Regions from separate parts of the Homo sapiens genome. Here region 2 is linked to region 1. Evidence: fine-mapped expression QTL. A gene starts in region 1. The other region holds a variant in brackets. All regions are shown on one strand. Distances are from middle to middle.

Region 1 (11,991 bases):
TTTCTCCAAGGAGAACTAACAACAGAATAAGACTTAAGCAGCTCACAAACTCAGCCTGACTGTTTTTCAATTCACACCAATTAAGGGAAGGGGGAAGAAAGGAGAAAGTGCCTATTAAAGGGAACATTTGTGGTGTCTCCGCCCAGACTCCTCTGGAGTTGCGTGGTGATAAGCACTGTCATTCCCCATTTGCAGAACATATGCTGCAGAGCACAGACTGTGGCACCCATGTGTAATTGACTATTGAAAAAAAAAACAAATCCAAAGGTCCAGAAATTAGCGGAGCAGTATGGTGACTACATTTCATCTCTCAAAAGACAGCAGCAATAGGATGCTGATCTCAGGAGGAAGCAGAGCTTAGAAAACACAATCTGTCTTCAAGGCTCATTCAAATGCAAACATTATGGTCAGGGGCAAGATGTCCACTGCCTAATGAGGTGCCCATATAACTACGGATTAGGACAATCTCCTTACATGAACTCAAACAGCCAGCCCAGCAGGCACTCCTAAACAGACCCAAATTGCTGAAGCATCTGAAAGTAGGAAGCCCCGGCACCTAAGAATTGGTGGCAGGAAGGAATTAGATGTCTAATCCATGTATTTTTGTTTCACCAGACTAATTTCTGGGGACCAATCCAAAGGTACAGTCAGCCACTGTAGCAAAGATGCATGTATTAATATCCCTCCAAGCATTGGCTTTGGGATTCTTTTCCCCATTGCTCCTGAGAGGCCTTCTCACATCATCTAATTCAAGACCATTCCTAATATTCTCACTCATATTAAAACAGCACATATCACAATTTGTAATTATATGGTTACTGATTTATTCATGAAATTCTTTTTCATCTTCCCTATTAGACTACAGGCTCCAGAAGGATAGGGGCCATATTGGCCTAATTCTAGTAATCTCAGTGACTAGCATAATGCCTGGCACACACACCCAACAAATATTTAAGAAGTTAATGAAGAATGAATGAGTGAACAAATGGACAAGTTAATGAGTGAGTGATGCTCTCTATCCTTTCAACTGTTGCATTTGGCAATAAAAGCAGTATAATTGGTCCCTCTGTAGTGAAGTTCTGCTCCTGGGTATGTTTGGGATGCAGTTTCCACTCATGCTTCCAACTCAAAGAATCAGTCCCCACCCATGGCTCCTGCTAGAGGAGTAGCAAGCCATGTGACCCCACCTCATAGTCACAGAGAATTAGACCTGCCAGGGGCAGCACCCTCACCAGAGTGAGGCCCATTATTAGGCTGGCAATGAACTCTGACTTGGGTTGTCTTTCTTACAAAGGGAAATCAAGCTACCACTCTCTTCTGTTGGGACTTTGAACAAATAAACACAGAGAAGATTCAGTGGATGCTTGAACTGCAAGGTTGTGCAGAGATGGGTGGGTTGCATGCTGGGGCCACCACTGTGGTATTAGAGTATCAGTTACGAAGGAACAATGCAATCAGAGGGAGGTGGTGGGGAGAGAAAGGAGACCACAGTTGGCATGCTCAGAGAAGCTGAGAAGCCATGAGAGGAGAGGCAGAGGTTTCCAGGGTTGCCTCAGTTCAAGCCCTTTCCGAGGCCTGGCTCCTCCTGTTTCCTGGATTTCCATGTGATTCCTCTGACCCTAAAATACACCACTTCTCCCTGCTCTCCCACAGATACACACCACACACATTTTCGTTGAACTGGTTTGACTAGATTTTGTTCCCTTCAACAAAAATCCATGTGCAAATGACACCAGCACACATTGCCCACGCCAAATCTGTCAGTGTGCATGGATCAGCTCTGTCCAGGGTCCTGGGCTGCGACAGCATCACCCACATCCCTGAACCACGAGCTGGTTATGGATTCCTCCATATTCCCCAACCAAGCTGTGAAAAAGATCCCTTCTCTGCTTCTGCAGAGCCTGTTATGGTTTGAATTGTGCCCTCCCCCTCCAAAAAAAGAGACGTTGGAGTCTCAACTCCCAGTACCTCAGAATGTGATCTTATTTGGAGACAGTCTTTACAGAGGTAATCACATTTAACTGAAGTCACTAGGGTGGGCCCTAATCTAATATGACTGGATGTCCTTTTTAAAAGGAGAAATGCGGAGACAGACACGCACACAATGAGAATACCACGTGAAGTTGGAGGCAGCGATCAAGGCAACGCTTTTGTAAGCCAAGGAATGCCGAGGATTGCCAGCAAACCACTGGCAGCTGGGGGAGACACCTGGAACAGATTTTCCCTCAGCCCTCAGAAGAAACCAACAAATATTCCTCAACACCACACATGGGTGTAAAACCATAGCTAGAGAGAAGCTGCATACAGAACAGGTTTCTGATCAAAATATGCCACTTCCATAGGGCATATTGATTATTTTGAGCTGGATGCAAATAAGAATCAACAGGTACAGCAAGAAGCTTTCCTGGATATTTATCTGAAGAAACTCCTAAGAAATAAGGACTGTCATAAATCCCCTCTCCCAGGGAAGTTTTATGGCAATGAAGAAGACAGAAAGTTGGCTCCAAGATGAACCTGCACAAATAACCCTTTATCTTCCATTAGATTCCCCATATATTTCCCTTCCCACAGTTTGCTGCCCTTGGAGGCCTAAAACCCTCCTTTGACTTGCTACTTCTCTAAACCTTTATTGTACCTTTGCTAAGATGCTGTATAAGCTCAAGTTCAAACCAACCCTTTGAGTACTCCATATGTAAGCAGGATGTACATGCTAATAAACTTGTTTGTTTTCTCTTGTTCATCAGTCTTTTGTTAGTCTAATTTACAGAAAACCCAAGATGCAGTAGCAGAAAGAAGCTTTTCCCTCCCCTACAAGAATAACTAGAGTCCCACACAAATCTGCCTGGCAGGCTCAGCTTCAGGGTAAACAAAACTCTTTTCTACCCTCACCCTTTATCTCAGGACTCCTGCCTTGAAGCCCTCTTTATAGTCCCAAAATACCATGCCAGAGACCACAGATTATTTGTCATGAATTTGTGTCCCCACCAAAATTCTTATGCTGAAGTCCCAGTCATCAGTGTCTCAGAAGGTACTCCTATTTGGAGATAAGTGCATATTCGGAGATAAAGGAATTATTAAGTTAAAATGAGTCCTTTAGGGTGGGATGCTAATCCAATATGACCGGTGTTCTCATGACAGGAGGAAGAGACAGCAAGGGTGTGCCTGCACAGAAAGCAATGAAGAGGCAGCAAGACAGCCATCTGCAAACCATGGAGATAGGCCATGAGACAAGCCAACCCTGGTGGTGCTTTGATCTTAGACTTCCAGCCTCGAGAACTGTGAGAAAATACATTTCTGTTGTTTAAGCCACCCAGTTGGTGGTATTTTGCTACAGCAGCCTGAGCAAACTAATATATCATCCTCAATATTCTTCCTCCTCTCCTTACTTATGAAGAGAACTCCTAATTTTTAGCTGGGTACATGGCTGCCTACATTACAGACTACATTTCCTAGCTTCCCTTGCAGCTATAGTCAGTCATGTGATTACATTTTTGCCAATAGGATGTAATGTAAGAAGAAATGTCAAGTGTGCCTTCAGGAAAATGTCTTTAAAGGGAAAAGCCATGACCTTCTTTTTCCCTGCATCCTTTTTGCTGGCTGGAAGGTGGACCTGATCACCGAAGCTTAAGCAGCCTATGTGGCTCAGGAGGCAGAAGTCACATGCCAAGGATACAGTGTGAGATATAGAATGAGCCACCTTACCACCTCTTCCCAGACCATTTCTGAGCTTTCCATGAGAGACAGAAATAAACTTGCAGCTTGGTTAGGCCACAATTTTGGAGGTTTTCTGTCACCCTTTGTCACACTTAACCCTAACTGATACTGTTAGTTTCTCTTTCTACCTCCTTCTTTTCTGCCCTTTCCTCTCTCCTGCAAGGAGAAAGCTCTCTTCACTGACAAGAGCCTCAGGCAGAGTGGATTAACCTAGTAAAGGTTAACAGGCAATGTTGATTATAAGTGACCTCCTGCTAGATTAACCAGGCAGTCAGCAGACAGGTAAAACTGTTACCCATTTTCCTTCTATTCTAAGTCCAATTCCCCACTCCTATCCTAATTAACTATTTAACTTCTTCCAGATGACACTGCTCAAAACCTCCAGTGCTCAGAGAAGGAAATCCAAACTTTGAAGGTTGGCACTCAAAGCCCTTCACAATCTAGCCATAATCTACCTCTGAAATTTTTTTAACACTAAAAGCAATACTAAAACCAAAACAGACTACTTATTGTTTGACCCACACACTTCAGGGATGCCAGTTCCCTGCCTTTACCCATGATGTTCCCCTTCTAGATGCTTTTCTGGTGCCATGCAAAGGGCCTAGGGTCTGAAGACAATTGAATTTAAGGCCCGCTCCATTGCTTCCAAGTGATGTAAACTTGGTTACTTCACCTGTAAGTTGGGAATAATACACTGCCTCACATGGGGGTTCTGAAGTCAGACAGAGATTGCATGACCTTTGGTCTTGCAAACCATGAAATACTACAGTCTCATAAGGCATGACTGTCCTGAATCTGGCATTAGGGTGCATCTTGGTGCTGGTGTCTCTTGGTTCTGAAGCTGCTAGGTAAGACCCTGGACCTGAATCACTAACTCTTATTGAGCCAGCACACTACTAAATGCTTTCCATGCATAACCCCATTCAATCCTCACAAGAGTCTCATGAGACCTGCATTATTATTACTTCCACTTTATAGACGAGGAAACAGACCCTGATTTGAACTCAGTTCTGACTTCCCAGTCCAAGCCTCTAGCCTTACACATAACTCCTCAAGGGCAGAAGCTGTATCCTTCCTTACTTTGTAACTGCCCCTTGAGATATGAATTATTATTTGTTCTCTGGATGGGGACCATTTATATCAAAATGACCCCACAGTGCCCGGTACCCAGTAATTGAGTGGATAACTGCTGATCTCTCCAGGGCAGTGTTTCCCAAACAGTGGCCTGGGGACCCCCTGCATCAAATCCCTCTGGGTGTTTGGGTCTTCCAATGCCTCACCTGCGAAATATTTATCTCTGAGATGGTGTCTGGTATCCGCCTGTGTAGGAAGCTCCAGAGTGACTTTTTATTTGATATTTAAGTTTAAAAACCACAGTGAGTCCATGGAGATTGCACCACGGATGACACTTAGAGTAGCAGCACCTGAGGCCTCCCTTCCCCCAGCCACCACTTCCGCCCCTGAGCTCCAGGCAGAGGCTTCTGGGAGTTTAGATGGCTGAGGCTGACGAAGCTAGCTTCTTGGTTACCCTAAGACCACCTGGCGGGAGCCTTTTTCCCCAGAGGCTCTGGGGGGCTGAGTAGAGAACCCCACCGTCCAGCCCCATTCCCCCAAGCTTGAGCTGCCCTCTGGATGCCCTGCCAAATCAGGAGTCATCTGACCCAGGAGGAACAGACAGGGGAAGCAGGCAAATGGGTGTCGCTTTGGAGGGGGTGGAAGTATGCATGGTGGGCAGGCCAAGGCTGAGCCAGGGGAGAGTGGAGCTCCCTCTACAAGGCCAAGTCTCCCACGCGGCGAGCTGGGGCACTCCTGGGGACGCCGAGTTTGGCGCGAAGAACTGAGTTGTCAAGCGCAGGTCTTGACCCTATCTCGGAAATGTCTAAGGTTCCCTCAGCAGGCGAGAGGGCGAGGGCTGTGCTTAGCCTGCGGGGTGGGGTCCCGCCGTCCTCTCCCCGAGCCTCGGCTTTCCCGCCCCGAGGCCCCGCCGCAGGCTGCGCCCTCTGACCTGCAGGCAGCGCGCCCTGCCCACCCCGCGCCGCCGGCCCCGCAGCATCCTCCTGCTCGCGGCTCTCCCGCCACCTGTCCCGCTCCCTGCCGCGCCCTGGGGCCCGCACCTACCCACGCCGTGCCGCTCCTTGTCAGCTTTGCGCCAGGGGGCCATGGCTGGGCCGGGGCCTCGCGTCCTCCCGTGGGGAAGCCGTCAGGGGGTGGCTGGGCGCCGCAGGGCCCCACTTCCTTCCTCTTTTCAAACTCCTCTCAGGGCCCGCCCTCTCCTCCCTCGCCGGGGCTCCCCGCTCCCTCCTCCCTCCCGTTGGGCAGGGGCACACTAGAAGGCTGGTGCCCCGTAGGCTAAGACACGCCACCCCACCCCACTTCACGCAAAACTTGGGGACCACTCCCACTTTGTCTCCTCCCCAGGCGAGGGAGCAGAGGCCAGTCCCCACCTGGGGCTCGCCAGACCACCACCGCAAGTGCAGAGAGTTTCCTGATTGCCGTGCCTAGGGACTGAACAAACCTCCTTAACTCCCCTCAGCATGAGCTTTGGTGTCAGATCTCGGTTCGAATCCAGACGGGGACAAATGACTTCATTTTTCTAAGCTTCAGTTTTCTCATCTGTGAAATGGGATACTAATACCTACTTCATATGATTATTGTGAGGGTTAGAGAGACAATGTACACAGCAGGTGACATGGAAGAGTAAATGTTTACCTGGAGGTGGATCCTTTACAGCCTTTTTTTTTTTTTTTTGTGAGACGGAGTTTCGAGTTTCTCTCTTGCTGCCCAGGCTGGAGTGCAACGACGCGATCGCGGCTCACCGCGACCTCCGCCTCCCGAGTTCAAGCGACTCTCCTGTCTCAGCCTTCCCAGTAGCTGGGATTACAGGCATGCACCAGCATGCCCGGCTAACTTTGCATTTTCAGTAGAAACGTGGTTTCTCCATGTTGGTCATGCTGGTCTCGAACTCCCCACCTCAGGTGATCCGCCAGCCTCAGCCTCCCAAAGTGCTGGGATTACAGGTGTGAGCCACCGTGCCTGGCCCATTTACAGCTTTTTATCGTTTTGGTGCTACAAACCCGTTGGAAAATCTGATGTAAGCTCTAGAAGCTCTACTCTGAAAATACGTAAATACACTATTTACCAACATCACTGCAAGGTGAAGGGTGCTGTCACAGCCAGCAACAGTGGGACCCAGGAAAAGAGCCCTAGAGTTAGGCTAATGGAGACATTTCCTCGAAAAATCTCATTTTTGCTCTGAGAACAGATTCTGTCCAAAAAAAAAAAAAAAAAGTCTGATCCACAGTGATAAGGCTGAATTTAAGTTTTGCTGAGTTTTCTTTCTTTATTCATGACTCTCACTACCCCTTTCTGCCTTACACTGGAGAGTCATTAAGATAGATTAGGCAATATCACAGCTGAACTGGAGCAACAAAAAATTATTGATTTTGTTTTATCTGCAGTTATTTTCTTTTCTGTTTTCTAGCAGCACAAATTAGGTAATAATGTCTTATACAGTCAGCAGTGGTATTAGGGTTCCACCAGATGACCAGAGTAGGAGATTTTATATATATGCATACATATATATACATACATACATATATGCATATATATATACACATACATACATACATATATGCATATATATACACATACATATATGCATATATATACACATACATATATGCATATATATATACACATACATATATGCATATATATATATATATATATACACATACATATATATGTATATGAGAGACAGAGAGAGATTGGGGATTGGCTAATGCGATTGTGGGGCTGTCAGGAAGAGCAGTTTGGAAACTCACAGGCAGATGTCCTCAGGAGGAATTTCTTCTTTTTCAAGGAACCTCAGTTCTATTCATAAGGTTTGTCAACTAATTGGATCACACCAACCAAATGTATTGAGGATAATCTCCCTTAATTAAATTCAATGTATGGTAGATGTTAATCACATCTACAAAGTACTTCACAGCAACCCCTGTGAAGATTGTGAAGATTGGTATTTGATTGAATAACTGGGCCATAGCCTTGCCAAGTTGACTCACAAAACTAGCTATCACAACAATGTTATAAATTGGGACTATACAATAGAGGATGCCAAACATTTTCTGTAAAGTCACAGATAGTATTTTAGTCTTTGCAGTCCAGAAAGCAAAATCAAGTATATATGTAGGATGCAGGTACTTATGTAAAGAAAGAAAAAAGGTTCTAAATTTTTTTTATTAATAAAATTCAAAATATCATGTGAATGAGTATTTTTTGTAATACTAGCTTAGTAAGGCAAAAAAAAATACATTTTGGGAATGATATCACATTTCACCTTATTGGAGTTCAAAGTTAATGTGCCTTATCGAAATTGATTCAAATATTCATATGTTAATGCTGATCTGACAGGATATTTACTTTCTATTTCTGAAAAAAATGTTTACCAAATGGGCAATGGTTAAAAGTCCAGAAAAGCTAATAAAATTAACCTTTGATACCACTGATTCAATAACATCACAGATTTAGATATTTTCCACAAAGTACCTGATGGTGAATATTACAATTAATAATCATAAGCTTTAAATATCTTATATTTTCACCCACCTTCTAAATTTGCTCCAAAAGCCTTCTTCTGCTCCACAGATATTTTTTTTACCATGAACACTAGCAACACATCTTAGCAGATTCCACTTCAGGTTGTGTTGAATTAGTGTTTTCTCATTTTCTTTTAAAGTAATCTTGCCTATAGTTCTTCTACACAGGCTCTTCATAGAAGCTATTTCTTCATTCACTTCGAACTCAGCATTGACTTCTCAAATAAACAACAACTGAGCTGTATTGGTAATATTTGTCAACAAGAACTAAGGAAAACCACTAGAAGTCATTTTAAAATTCACTATTGATGCTTCTGTCAATGTTCTCAACCAAGCAACCAGTGTCACCAAAAGGCTAAAAGTCTTAAACTAATTTATTTTCACTGGATATATTTCATCTGCTGCTATAATCAAACATGATTTAATGAACTTAACATCAATAAAATATTTTGCCTTGCTTGCATAACAAATAAGCCACTTGGAAACTTATTCTGGTTGTAGTCTCATTTTCACTTTTTATTATTTTAAAGAAATTGTGCTGTGATGAGATATTCTGTTTTAAATTTTCTAATTTTTCTTGTCATTGCTTTTGTGTAAGTTGGAAAAGATGTGATGAGTGCTTAATCTATTATATTGTTTGGAGTGTCAACATGTAATAAACACAATGCTTTCTCCTCTGCTTTGTTTGTTTTGTGCTGCTATAACAGAATGCTACAGACTGTGTAATTTATGATGAACAGAAATTTATTTGGCTCACACCTCTGGAGGCTGGGAAGTTAAATATCAAGGGGCCAACATCCAGCAAGGGCATTTTTTTGCTGTGCCATCCCGTGGTGGAAGGTGACAGGGCAAGAGCCAGAGAGCAAGAGAAGCCCAAACTCACTTTTATAACAAACCCACTCTCACAATAACTAACCACTCCCTCAATAACTAACCCACTCCTACGATAACAACATTAATCTATTTATGCAGAGCCCTCATGATCTACTAATTACATCTTATTAGGCCCCACCTTCCAACACTGTTGCTGTATTGGGGATTAAATTCCCAACTCATGAACTTTGGGGGGGGTCACATTTAAACCATAGTGCTATTTAATTTGGTAACAAACAATACACACTCCACTGTGCCTTAGAAGCATGACATTTGGAGCCCACTATTCTTTCTTTTCTTTTTGACATGGTGGCTATAGCACTGGTAATTTTTTTAAATGTTACCATAGAGAGAGATATGCACTTTAAATGCTGTGGAGTTGTAATCTCATCCTCGTGATTAGTGGGTTGCTGGAGAGCACTGTGTAGCATTGAAAACACCATACACAGTCCTTGTTGCAAATAGTCAACTCTGCCATTGTAGAATGAAAACAACTATAAATGATGCATAAATGAATGAGCATGGCTGTGTTCCCATAAAATGGAATTTTTACTTCCTACAGTTTTCATATAGCATGGAATGTTATCTTTATTTTGATATTTTTCAGCAGTTTAAAAATGTAAAAACTAGTCTTAGTTCATGGGCCATACAAAAACATGCAACAAGCCAGATTTGATCTGTGAACCACAGTTTGCTATCTTCTGCTATACACAGTTGTGTTGTCTTCATAAACTTGTAGCCAGTTGATCTAAAATACACTTTTTTTTTTTTTTTCGATTTAGGTTTAAGCTTCTGACATACAAACAGGCAACTTCACATTAACAGTGTGGTAAAGTATCTGATGGGAGGCCAAGAGTAGGTGGTGGTGCCAGAAAGCAAATAAGATTGAACTTGAGGAGCACTGAAGTTTTTTTTTCCCCATTCAACTTGTGACACAACCTATAATAGGAATCTCTTCCTTAAATAATGTTAAACAAACAAATTCAGCATATTAAAAGAGTTGAAAAACTGCTTTCAGTTGAAGGAGATGAAGTTTAGAAATTTTGACTGAGGGTTAATTAACTTCTTAATGGGGTGGCTTTTAGTGCAGAAATCTTTAAACTTCATATGGTTAGGAGATGGCTTTTATGTTTCTGAAATATGGGCTTTTCATTACAGTTAACAATCCTATGGCATCATAAAAATTTTTTGGCAAGAGAGATCAATAGTCAAACATAAAAATCTGACTAAAACCACTTAAAGAATTTACAATAATCTTGGTCACACAATTTTATTAAACACCATCTGTCAGTTACTTGACTATTAGGTAGTACACTCTTGATGACTATAACTTCACATACATTGTGAGGGATGACTGTGGGTAAAAGGACATCTCTAGCCAAGATTTCTGTTAAGTTCAGTCCTGTGTGTCCAACTACCTCCTAGACATCCCCTCCCAGCCCCATCAATGTCTCCATATTTCAAAACCAAGCTCATATCATAACTGTACCCTAGACTTGTCCCTCTTCTGACTGTTTCTACCCAATGTTAACAGATGAAGTGACCAGACTGTGCTTTAATCAGGTGCTAGAACCCCATCTCCATCACTTACCTAGCTTTGTGGTTTGCAGCAAATTCACTGAACACTTTCTGAGCCCCATTCATTGAATACTTACTGCCTTTCAATCCCTGATTTAAACAGTTGGCATGCATTATCTCGTGTCATCCTAAAAGCAGCCCCATAAGACAGGTACCATTATTACCCCAATTTTACCCCCAATTTGCTAATCAGCAAACTGAGGCCAGAGAAATGAAATCCCTTATTGTAGCCAATATCCACTATGATTGCCCATGAGTGCATCATTACCCTTCACTTCACTCGGGTCAGAAATTTAACTCATCCTAATCTTCCTTTCATTCCAAATGATAATCTCAAAAACAGCTGTTGAATCTGCCCTCTTCCCCATCCCACAAACTTAAGATCTTCCTTGAAACTTGGATTAGAGATCCCTTCCTCCAACCTTGCCTCCTTCCAATCTCTTCTCCATGTTACTTCTGAGAACCTTTGCCCAAGTAGTTTTGGTCTTCTCAAGCTTCTGGAATAATCTAGGAAAAATATAAGCAAAGCAGGTTTGTAATAACGTGAGAGGTTTAACAACTTTTGTGAAATGTGAAATAAAGACATTCCACAGGAAATAACTATGCAAAGCCTCAAGTATAGCCCAAAGAAATCTAACTGGACTCATGGTTTAGGTAAATTGAAGAAAACTCTTTCCCTAAGGCACAGCAGAAGGGGAGGTTTCTGATGTCCATCTTTTTCAGAGTCATATGTATTCAGGTCCAAGATTTGGCTGGATTTCACTAGTATGCCTGTAATGATTACTAAATATTGGAATATTTCCATACAGTTGCTAAATAGCTATATCTCAAGACATTCGAGTGCCCTCCTCCCATTCTTGCGTCACTACAGTGCCTGTCAGCTTGTTCTGAGTAGTTCATGGGGGTGGGCCCCCTACTGCACAAGTCCACCAACACCCAGCCAGAGAGCTCCTGGGCCCAGATAGGAGAGAGGGCTACCCGGAGTTAGCATTGGCACGTCAGTAGGTAGATGCCTAGAGGCTTCTGGTGTCCCACTGACCTGTGTCCATCACATGGCTGCCTTTGGAAACTCCATCCTCCACAGTACTAGTCAACATTTTTCTCATTGTCTCTTCTTGTGTTAGCTGTTACAGTCATGGCAAATAGCCGAGTATATTCTCAGCAGCTCAGACAGTCGAGAGCAAAAGCTTGTACTTACCTAAATTTTACTCACCAAAGAGGAGTCCAC
Region 2 (11,755 bases), 440 kb before region 1:
GCCACTTTGGCTTATCATGCTCATGGATCAGCAACTGACCCTGATTACATGAGGACCTCGGATGTTGATTCAATAGGCGCAGAGAGGAGCGTGCCTGGAACCAAGGGGATCACTGGGCCCTTTCTTAGTACACTCATGCCCACTGGTAATGATCACTAGGTAATTACAACAACCACAAACCAAGAAGGGTGGAGCAATTAGACTCAGACCCTTTGGGGATAAGAGGTCTGAGCAGCCCAGCAGGCAGGCAACCCAGTCCAGATGAAGTGTGACCTGTGGGTCAGAGACACTTAACTGGGTGGTGGAGGAAGGAGATAATGAGTATCTGTTATAGTCTTGGTCCAGCTGCAGTAGCTATCGTGGCTTCTTTCACAAATCTTCTTGCTGTAGGTTGTGTGGGAGATCATAACTAAATGCCGCCTTGAAGTGGACTCTGTGACTGCTTGGACTGGGACATCCCTTCTTGGGAAAGGAGAAAGCACATGAATTTGGACATCTCTTATGGGAAAGAAAACATGTGGACTTGGACATGTGGAAAGGAAAAAGCACATGGACTTGGACATCCCCTCCTAGGAAAGGAGAAAGCATATGGATTTGTTCATCTTTTTGTAGGAAAGGAGAAAGTACATCTTATACACACACTCACACACACAGAGAGAGAGAGAGAGAGAGAAGATTCACAAGCTATAATAGGAGCAGGAGATAACAGAAGGGGCATGTGAGGGTCTGAATGTCCCAGACAATCTCATATGCCTTTTCGGCTCCTTCAGAGGCCATGGTTTTCTGGGACGCCAGCTGTCTGCTCTACCTCAGTAGCCACTGCAGCCAACTTAGGTTCACATGGTCCTCCCACCTGGAGTCCACCAGTTGCTTGTCCATAAGGCCTTGCTCTTCCCTTTTCTTGCTGCAACAGAGCCCAGACTACTGGCTTATTCCCTGAGTTGCTGGTTTCTTACACAAATTCTGCCCTTGGATGGAATGCCACTTTGTGGGGCGTGGGATCTAGCTTCCCAAGCAGCTACTGAAAGGGCTAAATGATGCAATCCACAGGTAAAACCATGAAGGGTTTTACCATACCCAACAGGGGGAACTTACTACTAGAAACAGGAGACTGAGGTAGGGGCAAGCTGGGCAAATACATTCCCTTTTCTTCCTTTTTTTTTTTTGACAGAGTCTCACTCTGTTGCCAGGCTGGAGTGCAGTGGCACAATCTCGGCTCACTGCAAACTCCACCTCCCAGGTTCAAGTGATTCTCCTGCCTCAGCCTCCTGAGTAGCTGGGACTACAGGTGCATGCCACCACACCTGGCTAATTTTTGTATTTTTAGTAGAGACAGGGTTTCACCATGTTGGCCAGGATGGTCTTGATCTCTTGACCTCATGACCCACCCACCTTGGCCTCCGTAAGTGCTGGGATTACAGGCGTGAGCCACCACGCCCGGACTTTCTCCTTTTTACAGACTCTTCTGGGGTTTGATTTCTCTATTATACCCTGCCCAAAGATACCCTGCTCAATGCTGCCTGACAAGTTGAGTCTCTTTGTGGCTTAGTGTGAACCAGAGACAAGTAGAGTTAATACCTCAACTTTCATTGCTTCCAATCCCTTTTCCCTCTTTCCTTCACCCTAAGATTGCACAGCCCCAAAAGAGCATGGCATTCAATCATTGCCTGAGGATCTGTTTCCTAGGGAACTGAAGCTATGGCAGGGAGGCAGAAACACCCAGGTTTCAGCCAGGAGAGGCATACAGATGTGTTACAGGTTAGCATGTCTGGAAAGCAGAGCCCAGCCTGATTTTGGATGCTGGGAAGGCCATTTGTTTCCCTCAATTTCTCTTCTACTTGCTGACATAAGCCTGAAAGCCTAGAAGAAAGAAGGAAGACTTCTACTCCATGCTTAGGAATAAAGGCTAAAAATACCCCTCCCTTAAGGAAAGGAAGGGAATGTAGTGCTCTAGATCAAACCAAAGTATGAATCGCAGATATCAACCCTGTCTTGGAGACAGAGAACAAGCGTCACTGGGTGCTTAAAGAGAAGGTGAGAGATTTCCACTGATGGGAGATTACCTGGAAGAAGACCTGGATTCCAGATTGGGTCCTGCTGATCACAGCCATTGGAGAGATCACTTAACTGTGTAAAATGAGAGCACTGGATGAAGTGGTCCCTAAGGGTCCCAGAAAACAGCATCAAGAAGGGAAGACATATAAAGAGATCCTTCCTCCAATCCCATCCAATGCTACCTCCTTCTGGAAATTCTGAGACATACACCCTTCCTTGAGATGACTAGCTTGTTTTGGACAGAACTTGTATACAATAAGGGAACATCGGTGGTACCAGGAGGGCTATGCCAAATGCCTAACCCCACCTTCATTTTTCCCAGGTGCCACCATTGGCATTGTAGGAGAAGACTTGCAAACAATCATGGACGGTGAAATAGAGTCTGACATTGAGCTGAGGTCCCAGGTATAAAGTGAATGTGTGGATTAAGATCACGAGGCTTGGTGTGGATAGAGATGGCTGTGTCCCTTACTAGTCAGGTGACAAGGCCACATCACAAACTCCTCAACCTTGGAATTGAGTTTCACATCAATGTGATTGGGACCGTAGTGTCTAGCTCATAGGATTGGTGTGAGGATTTAAGGAAATGACATATAGAGTAAGTGCCTGGTAAGTGGCAGCTGTATTATTATTATTGCTTGTTATTGTTATTACTACTGGCATTGTTTTTCCTGCCATGTGATGGCAGCATCTAAAATTTTTCTGGCAAAGGATTAAGTGGGCTGTCAACCTCATTTCTTAACTGAAATGACATTTGACTTTCAAACCCTGTTTATGGGTTTAACGTCTTGCTCCATTTATATGGGAAAACAGGGAAGTGCCAATGGTCCCCTTCAGACTTAATAAGAAAACTCATAGATACTGATAATCTTCAGAAAATAGAACTCAGAAATATTATTACCAGGGTCACACGGTGTTAAGCGAGAAGATCAATCAGTTACAGAATTTTTAGGGGTTAAAGCTTACTTTCTCGGGACGACATAGCAACAACCTCTGAGTATGGGTGTTTTTCAGTACTCCCGAGTGAGGGTAACATCTGCAGTTTCAAGGCACAGGATCATATCTGCTTTTCTGTAGTTGTGGGAAAAGGGAGAACCATTTTCTTTTCCTTGTTGAGATTTGCCCCCTCCTCCCTGGCCCCCACTGCCCACTGGTATTTGGAAGGGCTTACATGTCAAAGCTAAACAGTAGGATTTTATCAGTTCATAATAAGAGAAAAAGCAGGCATGAGAAGCCAAGCTCGTAATAGAGTCCAATCCTCCAGGTGCTGCTTACTCACCTTAGGGAACCCAAAGGTGTTTGTTGTAGCCCAAACCCCAACAATCATCGCAACAGGACTTTTTAGACTGTTGAGGAAACTAGAAGCTGAACTAGGCAACACGTCTTCAAATGGGGCTTGCAGCAGGGACATAGAGGCCACCAGGGACAGGCTGGGGTGGATAAAGGCTACCAAGACTCAGGATATTCTGTGCACTAAGGTGTCCCAGAGACAATGTAGGGTGGTGCCTAAGAGTCAGGCTTCCCACCCAGCTGTCTGGGTTTGAATCCCAGCCATTCCATTACTAAGCGTGTGATCTTGGGTCACTTCATGCTTCTGTGCCTCCATTTCTTCATCTGGGTAGCAATCGTATCTACCTCCTAGGGCTGCTGTCTAGACTTAGGAAGTTCATTCTTATCATGTCTATAACACTGTCCCAGAGACAGTCAGGGCTCAATAAATTTGAGCTACCATCATCATTCTTTCTCATCTCTTACTATACCCCAGGGACCCAGCCTGTAAATGAGCATCCACCCCAAGGTTTCCAGATGGCTCTAGTTCTGAAACCTGTGTTGTCATGCACTTACCCAGTATTAATTTCCTTCTCAAATGCAGTCCTCCGCCTCCTTCTGGACCCCTCCCCTGCACAGCTCCCTGCTCTCTGTAGGATCCAGACGTGGGACTTTGCTCCCATCCTCTCTTGCTGCTGCCTGACAAAGCTACTCACCTCCTTTGGGCCTCATCTGAAAAACCTGAGAATTCCTCCAAGAAAAGCCACCACTTGGGAGCCGGTGACAAGATCCAAGAGCTGGACCATAAGTCCACTGGACCTCAGACCCCTCTTTTCCTAACTCTTTGGCATTATGTTTGGTCTTTACTAGAGTGACCTGGCTTGGGTGGTCTTGCCATCTCTTTCTAAAGGTGAAGAAAGGAGGTATGACACTCCACTATTCAGATTCGTGAGGAAGACCAGGGCAACTTTTTTAACATGCTGGTAGCCCAGGGTTTGGCACCTAAGGAACAAGAGTCATGGAGATTCTTGAAGAATCTTCTCATAGATGAGGTGGGGAAATTTGGCATTGGGCAAGGGCATCACCAGGCTCCTTCACATCACTGCAGCCCCTGGGCCTGCCTTCCTTCCAGGGAGCTTCCTGCCCAGTCCTGGGCCCAGGAGAGTCAGCCAACAGAATCAGGCAACAAGGCTTATTCGAACCAAGAGAACATTTTTTATTGTCAGTAAGAAACAGCAACTCTTCAGAGATGATTGGCTAGAAAAGAAACTGGTTGGTTGTATAAAAAAATGTAAAGTACAAAACTGTTAATCTAAAATAAAATTAAAAAGAATATTTAAAAGGCTTCCTTTTCTGTTAAGTTCTGAGACTTAATAAATGAGATAAAAACAGTTTCTTACACCTAAGAAACTGGGTTATGAAAGCTGTGCCTAGGATGTTGGGGAGAGCACACTGGGAGAAGGCATTCTTGCTGGTACCTTGAGTTCAGGAATCTACGTTGAGGCTTCCTCATCCACCATGATCACAGCCCCAGGGGATGCTGGGCTTGTTAGCATTCAAGCTCTGGGACCTGATTGGCCTCTCTGTCTCCTCTAAGTAAGGACAACTGATGGGGACAGTCTCCCACTCTCTGAGGCTTCGATGTTCCACGCATGGCTTTCCTCTTCCAGAAACTCCCCTCCCTGGCTCTCCCATGCAGCCCTAGTCAGCAGCAGCTCACAGGTCCGTGGACAGCGAGTCTGGGATCTGTTTGCCTTCTTCAGCCGATTTGCTGGCCAGCTTTTGAGAGAATAAACAAGCACAAAACCAAGATGCGATTATCAGATTAAGCACCAAAATGGAGCTTCCCAGTCCTAATCACAAGGGCCTCAACACTGACCCCTGCCCAAAGCCCAGTGAATGTGAGCTGCTATGCCCTTGGCTTTGGCCAGAAAGGCAGTGGTAGACAGTAGAGTGAGCCCAGGCTCACTAGCCATGTGGACTTGGGCACCTCACTTACCAAACCCTGTGAGCCTCCCATATAAAATCCTAAGAGTGGGAGCTCAAATGGCACCATGCTTGGGAAGTGCTTAGCATGGTGCCTGACTCATCGTGTGCTCATGGTAAACTTGAGATATTTGTAGTAGCAGAGTCCTGATTTCATATTACCTTGAGGATCAGATGTGTTATGGTACCTTCTTGATCTTGAGCAAAGGCCAACAAGTAACAATAGGAGATGGGACTTGCAGAATCAGCGCTTGGAAACTAATGTTCAATTTGTAGGATTTTGTGATATAGGTTGAATAAAAAAGGGCTGGAGCACTAAGGGGCAGTTTAGGCGAGGGTAGGCCACCTACTGCTTCTGAGGTCCCTGGGTCCTGCACATCCCTAGCTGGGGTCAATCCTGGTCAGAGGAGCTGCCTGAGGCCCCAGAGGAGAACTGCCCTCTGGGCATTGCTGCACAGTGTCCCAGAACTCAGGGCCTCCTGACTATGCCTCCCTAGGAATGACCACATATGCACACACAACCCCCCATTTTCTTCTCTCTGCATTGCTCTCTTCCCTTTCTCCTCCCAATGCCTTCCTTTCCTTCCACCCTCAATGTCCTCACCATTGTCTTGAAGAACTGATTGACCTTCTTCCGTGTGAGTGTCTTCTTGTCACCATCTGAGAGTTGGAGGAAGGTCTGGCTGAGGCGGGGAGATGTGTTGGCCTCATCCAACCCAGGGATGCCTGCCACTGAGAGCGCCAGGGCTGGAAGGAGAGCAGAGCTGGGGTGTGAATGGGTGGGTAGAGGAGGGGCAGTGCCTTGGGGGAGGTAGACAGGGGGAGGGCTGGGGGACAGAGCCAGCATCCAGGGATCACACATTGTATGTGCCAAGCAGGAGGCAGGATGCCTATTTCCTGCCGTGCCAGGGGACATTGAAGCTGTCCTCTTGCAGTGAAGATTGCCCACCCTACAGACAAGGGTTCAGCCTCCTGGCTCCTGGTCAAAACCTTGCCCCAAAGCCCTGACATCCCCAGGAAACAGAACCTTCTGCTCCAAGGCAGGGGACAGTGTGAGCTTACTCTTCCTCCAGCTCCCAACACCAACACCCTGGATTTCTCTCCCCATTGCAGGAGACAGCGGGAAGAGAGTCTCAAACCCACGTGTCACCTGGTGGAGGGGCCAGATGACCTAGTGGTTACAGCCCCAGCTTGGCGTCACAGAGACATGAAAAATTAGTTACTCTCTGACTGCTGGTTTTGACATTGGCCAAATGGGAGAAAGAGCCCAGACCGCCAGGGTGTGGTGAGACCTGCTGAGCAGATACCAGTGAAATGGCTTGGGCCAAATGTTGCAGCTGTGTTCAGGCTATCCTGGGGGTGGTGGCGGGGCAGTGGGTAGGTGCCTGTTCCAGGGAAGAGGGCCTGGGTCTGAACTCAGTCTCTGCCATTTGCTGGCTGGTGATAGGCAAGAGAGTGATGTTCTCAGTGCCCCAGTTTCCTCATCCATACAATGGGGTGGATAACATGAACTACTTCCTGGGTATGCGCAGTGGAGTAAATGAAATAAAGAAGGAGTA[G/C]CAGTTGGCGCAGGGCCTGGCACCCTCAATGTTCAGGAAACAGCAAGCGTCTTCACCATGATCGGCCTGCTGAGTTCCACAGGGCAGCACTGGTCCTGTCTTGTTCCCTTCTGACCTGGCCCTTAGCACACAGAGCCAGGCACATAGCAGCAGACGTCAAGGACTTCTGCCTACCAGATGGAGTGCTCTCAGGCATGCCATGTCCCCTGTTAGGGCCTCAGATTCCCTTCTGTGAGTTAGGACCATCGGCTGTGCTCTAACCTCCTCACTGGACAGTGAGTGAGTGACGACGGTGGCAGATAGGTAGCATCTATGCACCAAACACTTTGCAGCTATAAGATGTGGTGGCCATTTCTGTAAAGCCAGAAAGAGTCTTCCAGGTCCACAAAGAAGCCACAGGTCTTAGGGACATACCAAGGGCAAACTTCTGGCCCCTGGGGAGGCCTGGCTAACTGAGAACAAGGGGCCACCTAGTGTGACAAATGGATGCTCAGTGAATCCTGAGGGCCCAAGGGACAGCAGGCCTCTCCCCTGTCCCTGCTGGAGCTTGCTGGGATGGTGTCACCCCCAGGAAGTGGTGGGTGTGGGGAGAGATTAGAGGGTGGGTGGCTATGAGCAGAGCCTCTCACTCCAGGATGCCTGGCCCACTTTGTTGTGTAGACACAGTTCCCATCCATCCTCCACCCACAAGGCTGGTGGCCTGCACTATCTCTACTCCCTCATGCTGGTGGCAGCAGGGGGCATACCTGGGATGGTAGGCATGGACTGGCTGGCAAAGCTCATTTGAGAGAGGACAGACGCCTTGAGGGGGATGGCCGCATGCTCCGAGAGGTTGGTGTCACTCATGAACTCATGCTTCCTGGAAAGCTGGAGGAATACACCAGACACACACACACACACACAAAGACAGAGGCTTAGCATGAGGCAGATCTGGGTCTCTGAAAGATCAGTGAGGAGGGCGTGGCATGGTTTCTATGAAGCTGGCTCCAAGTTCATTTATTCTGTATTATACCATTCCATGCCAGCCTGCCACATATGGTTGCACAGGTTGCACACTACACAACTACAGGCGGGGGTGGCGGACATTCATTTAGACTATCATGTAAATGGTGTCCCCTAGAATCGACAAACACAGAAGACATTTCCATTCTTATCCATCCACGCAAGAGTAGCCTGCGAGGCCCACTGGGAAGTTTCTGGAGGGCCCTTTCTTCACTAAGGCATCTTGGTTGGCCCCTTGCTCTTTCATTTGGCACCCCTCCCTTGCCAGGGCAGTTAATCCATCTCCCACTCCCAGGTTCCCAGAACACTTCCAACAAACCTCTTTTCCAGGGGGAAACTAAGATTGAATCCAGGGCTGTCTGAAACCAAGTCTCATTTTTAAATAATCGTTAGTTTACAAGACCAACACTCTCAAAGCCAGGACAGTGAGATTTCATCCCTGTATCCCCACCTGGACTCCTGGCACACAGGAGGGGCTTGCAGGGGTCTGAGACATCAGTGGTTAGAATAGGCCTGGGGCTGGGGGCTATAGAAACACCTAGCTCAGTACCAAGTGGGCTGCTCTCCCTTTTGGTGGGAGAACAGGTGGATTCTCCCCAGCCTGGAAAAGCCCTGTGTGATGGTGGAAAGGATACACACAGGCTCTGAAGTGCAAAGGTCAGGGCTCAACTCCCAGCTCTGTCATGTCCCAGCCACCCCAGCTGCCTGGGCACGAGTAAGCACTTCACCTCTCAGCTCCTCAGGTGCCGCCTCTGCAATACCCATAGCACCGCAGTGGCAGGCTTCAGGAAGCCCATATCTGGAAGCCCTGGGTTTTGTGCCCAGCATGTAGTGGAAATGTGCTAACAGCGCTGGAGAGGCAATCTGCCTCAGCCACTCACCCGCTTCAGGTCCGACTCTGCAGCTGCTTTCTCATCCGCAAAAACTACGCTGCTTCTCTTTGTCCTCTTCTTGGACCTCCGCAGCTTGACCTCAGGCAGGGTGCTCCCCGGGGAGATCGGTTCCTCCTGCTCCACTCTCGGCGTCTTGGGTGATGCTAATTCCAGGTCAAAGCTGAAAGGCCAGAGGGGCAGCAATAGAAACTGCAGTTAGAGCTTCAGTAGAACTGCCTTGCAAGGACCCAGGAAGCTGAAGGGGACCTTTGGGCTGCCTGAGCTGTCACTACAGGGTCTGGAGTAGATCAGCAAATCTGGCAGAGGATTTGGGGAGCAACTTGCTCAATGCACAAACAGTTAAATGTGATGAGTAAAGTTCACTTTATTTTATTCGTGGTAAAATGAAATTGAAAGAAGTGAGCCATAGAAAAGAAACTGGTGGTGAGGAGAGAAGACTGGTTGAAAGCATGAATGTGGATTCAAATCCAGGCACGGCCAGTTCTTAGCTGAATGAATAACTTTGGGTAAATCACTCAACCTCTTCAAGCCATCATTTCCTTTTCAGTAAATGGAGGTCTTCGCAGAGACCTTGCAGAGTGGCCATGAGATGATGTCTGAGGAACCCTTGGCATATTCTTGGCATATGGTAAGTGCTGGGTTGCTCATGTATCTATGATTAGAACAGATGAGTTGGGCAGGGTGAATGGTGCCCCCTAGAATTGTGAATGATGCCCCCTAGAACTGTGAAACAGAAGACGTTTCCATCCTTTTCCCTCTGGGCAAGAGTAACCTCTGAGGCCCGCAGGGAAGTTTCTGGAGGGTCCAACAATGATGGCCAGAGGGCTCCAGGAAGGTGGAAGGGGCAAGGGAGGGAAGACCCCCGACAGAGGGGTGGGTAGGTGGTGCAGGAGGAAGAGCTCTGCAATGGAGACATCCCATCGTGGTTGGGAGGAGCTTCCTTGAAAGGGAACAGATCCCTATGAGAGGTGACAATATTCCAGAAGGATGCAGGCTTGGTGAGGAGCTCTGCCTGGCTGACAGAGATCACTGGACTAGAAGTCTGGGGGCTGCAGGTGACTCCTGCTGGGTCCTCAGGAAAGCTGCCTTGCCTCTCTGAGCCTCTGATAATCCCCTAAAAATGGTACTAACCATGAGCCTCCTGGGGTAGTTGTGAGACTGCAGATGGGAAAAGGCTTTTAAACTGAAAGGAGGAAGGGAAAGGTAGAAGGGATGTTGCCGGAGAAGAGAGAGAAGGAGGGGGGATAGAGCCAGGGAGGCAGGGGTGTGGGGGGCTCCTTGGGGTGCAGGGACTGACCTCTCTGAGGTAGGCTTGCTGGGGGTGCTGCAGTCAGAATTCATGGAAGCCAGAGAGATGATGGACATCTGTCTGTATGAGCGCAGCATAGACCTGGGACGGCCCACTCTCCTGTCGTCAAAGTCAGGCTGTGGTGGGAGAACAGGGTGGTTAGCAGCTGTAGCCTGGGGAAGGTGGCCCCAGCCTTCCTGTCACCTTCTTCCTCCACCTAGGCAGGGCAGAGTTGTGGGGCTGAGTGGAGCATCAGCACAAAAGTTCCTGGCTGGCTGAGGCTAGGGCGTTCTTGTAGAATGAAGAATGTGGATGACCTTTACTCCTGGTTCCTGGAAGGTAATATCTAAAACTTTGGAATTTCCTATGTGATAGTAGTATCCTTGTTATTATTCATGGTGGCCCCCTTGACCATACTTGATTTTATGCTAATAAGATGGCTCCTGATGGCCAGAAAGACCAGCTCTATGATTATAGGGCTGGGCTGGGGCTTTAAGCCATGTGGTATCAGCTCAACCTCCAGGGAGTGGACAGGCCCAGAGACTGATTTCCATCACATGGCCAATGGTTCAATCTATCATGACTACATAATAAAACCCCAATAAAAACTCTGGACATTAGGCTCTAGTGAACTTCTCTGGCTGGTAATCATACATCAATGTGCCAGAAGGGGGATGCATCTGGAATACGTGGAAACTTCATGTTTGGGACCCTCCTGGACCTCACTCTGTGTCTCTTTACCTGGCTGGTCTTGATTTGTATCATAAACTGAAATCATAAGTATCATGCTTTCCTGAGTTCTGTGAATTATTCTAGTGAATTATGAAACCTGATGGGGTAGTGGGAATCTCCCAGTTTGTAACCAGTTAGGCAGAAGTGTGGGTGGCCTGGGTCCCTGAAGCTTATGGTTGGTGTTTGAAGTGGGAAGTGTCTAAGACTGTGCTTCTAACCTGTGAAATGTGACCTAACTCCAGGGAGTTAGCACCAGAATTGCATTACAGGGACTTCATGTAGGGAGTATTGAAAGTGACAAACTGCCTCATGGAAAAAAATCTTTGAATCAAGAGACCTGAGTGCATCTGTAGGTTCTTCCAGTAATTCACTTTTCTTCTCTGGGTCTCAGTTTTACCATCTGTAAAATGGGAAGGCTGGACCAGATGGTTTTAAAGGAATTGCATGGCCTTGACATTTTATAACACCAGTTAATAAGGAAAAGGATGAAGAAGCACCCCGTAAGCACCAGGCTCATGGCCTCTTTAGGCCAAGGAGCTCAGCGGTCAAAATCACTGGCCTTAAACTAACAGAGCCAGATGCAAATTCTGCCCCACATTCATTTGCCACATAGCCTCTGGCAAGTTGCCTGACCTTCTGAACCTCAGAAGAAATACAAAGGATTAAAAATCTTTCCTGCCTCTCAGGCTTGTGGTGAGGATTAAATGACCTAGTAGATGTCAAGTGCTTGAATCAGGCCTGGCACATAGTAGATGCTGCATCAGTGTAGCTTTCATTATTATTACACAGTCCCTTGAGTAGTTGGTATCTGCACAATCCAGTTGTAACTGGAGTTTGTCTGGGGGTTACTTTTGCTGGACCAAGTTTCCAGGAGGGTTCCCCTGGATGGGATCCAGCAATGCTGGCCATCATTATCTTCTCTTTGGAAGCAGCTTCCTTTGCTGGATCCCCTCCAACTTCAGCCTCCAGCA

Evidence for each region. PIP is the estimated chance that this variant, and not a neighbour inherited with it, causes the effect.
Region 2: its variant is fine-mapped to the expression of DOCK2 in whole blood (TOPMed, PIP above 0.99).

Annotation. Positions count from the first base shown.
Region 1 is chr5:169,631,211-169,643,201 of GRCh38, reverse strand. DOCK2 (dedicator of cytokinesis 2) reads right to left here and starts at 5,927. Exons shown (of 52, transcript NM_004946.3): 1 at 5,833-5,927. The coding sequence starts at 5,875. RefSeq lists an enhancer at 5,130-5,229 and silencers at 5,490-5,549, 5,580-6,059.
Region 2 is chr5:170,076,144-170,087,898 of GRCh38, reverse strand. DOCK2 (dedicator of cytokinesis 2) reads right to left here. Exons shown (of 52, transcript NM_004946.3): 48 at 10,062-10,189; 49 at 8,753-8,924; 50 at 7,616-7,736; 51 at 5,915-6,057; 52 at 4,517-5,103. The coding sequence ends at 5,041. Among named protein-coding and RNA genes, the nearest start is that of FOXI1, 24 kb to the left of the region's middle. The variant G/C (reference allele first, on the strand shown) is at 6,870.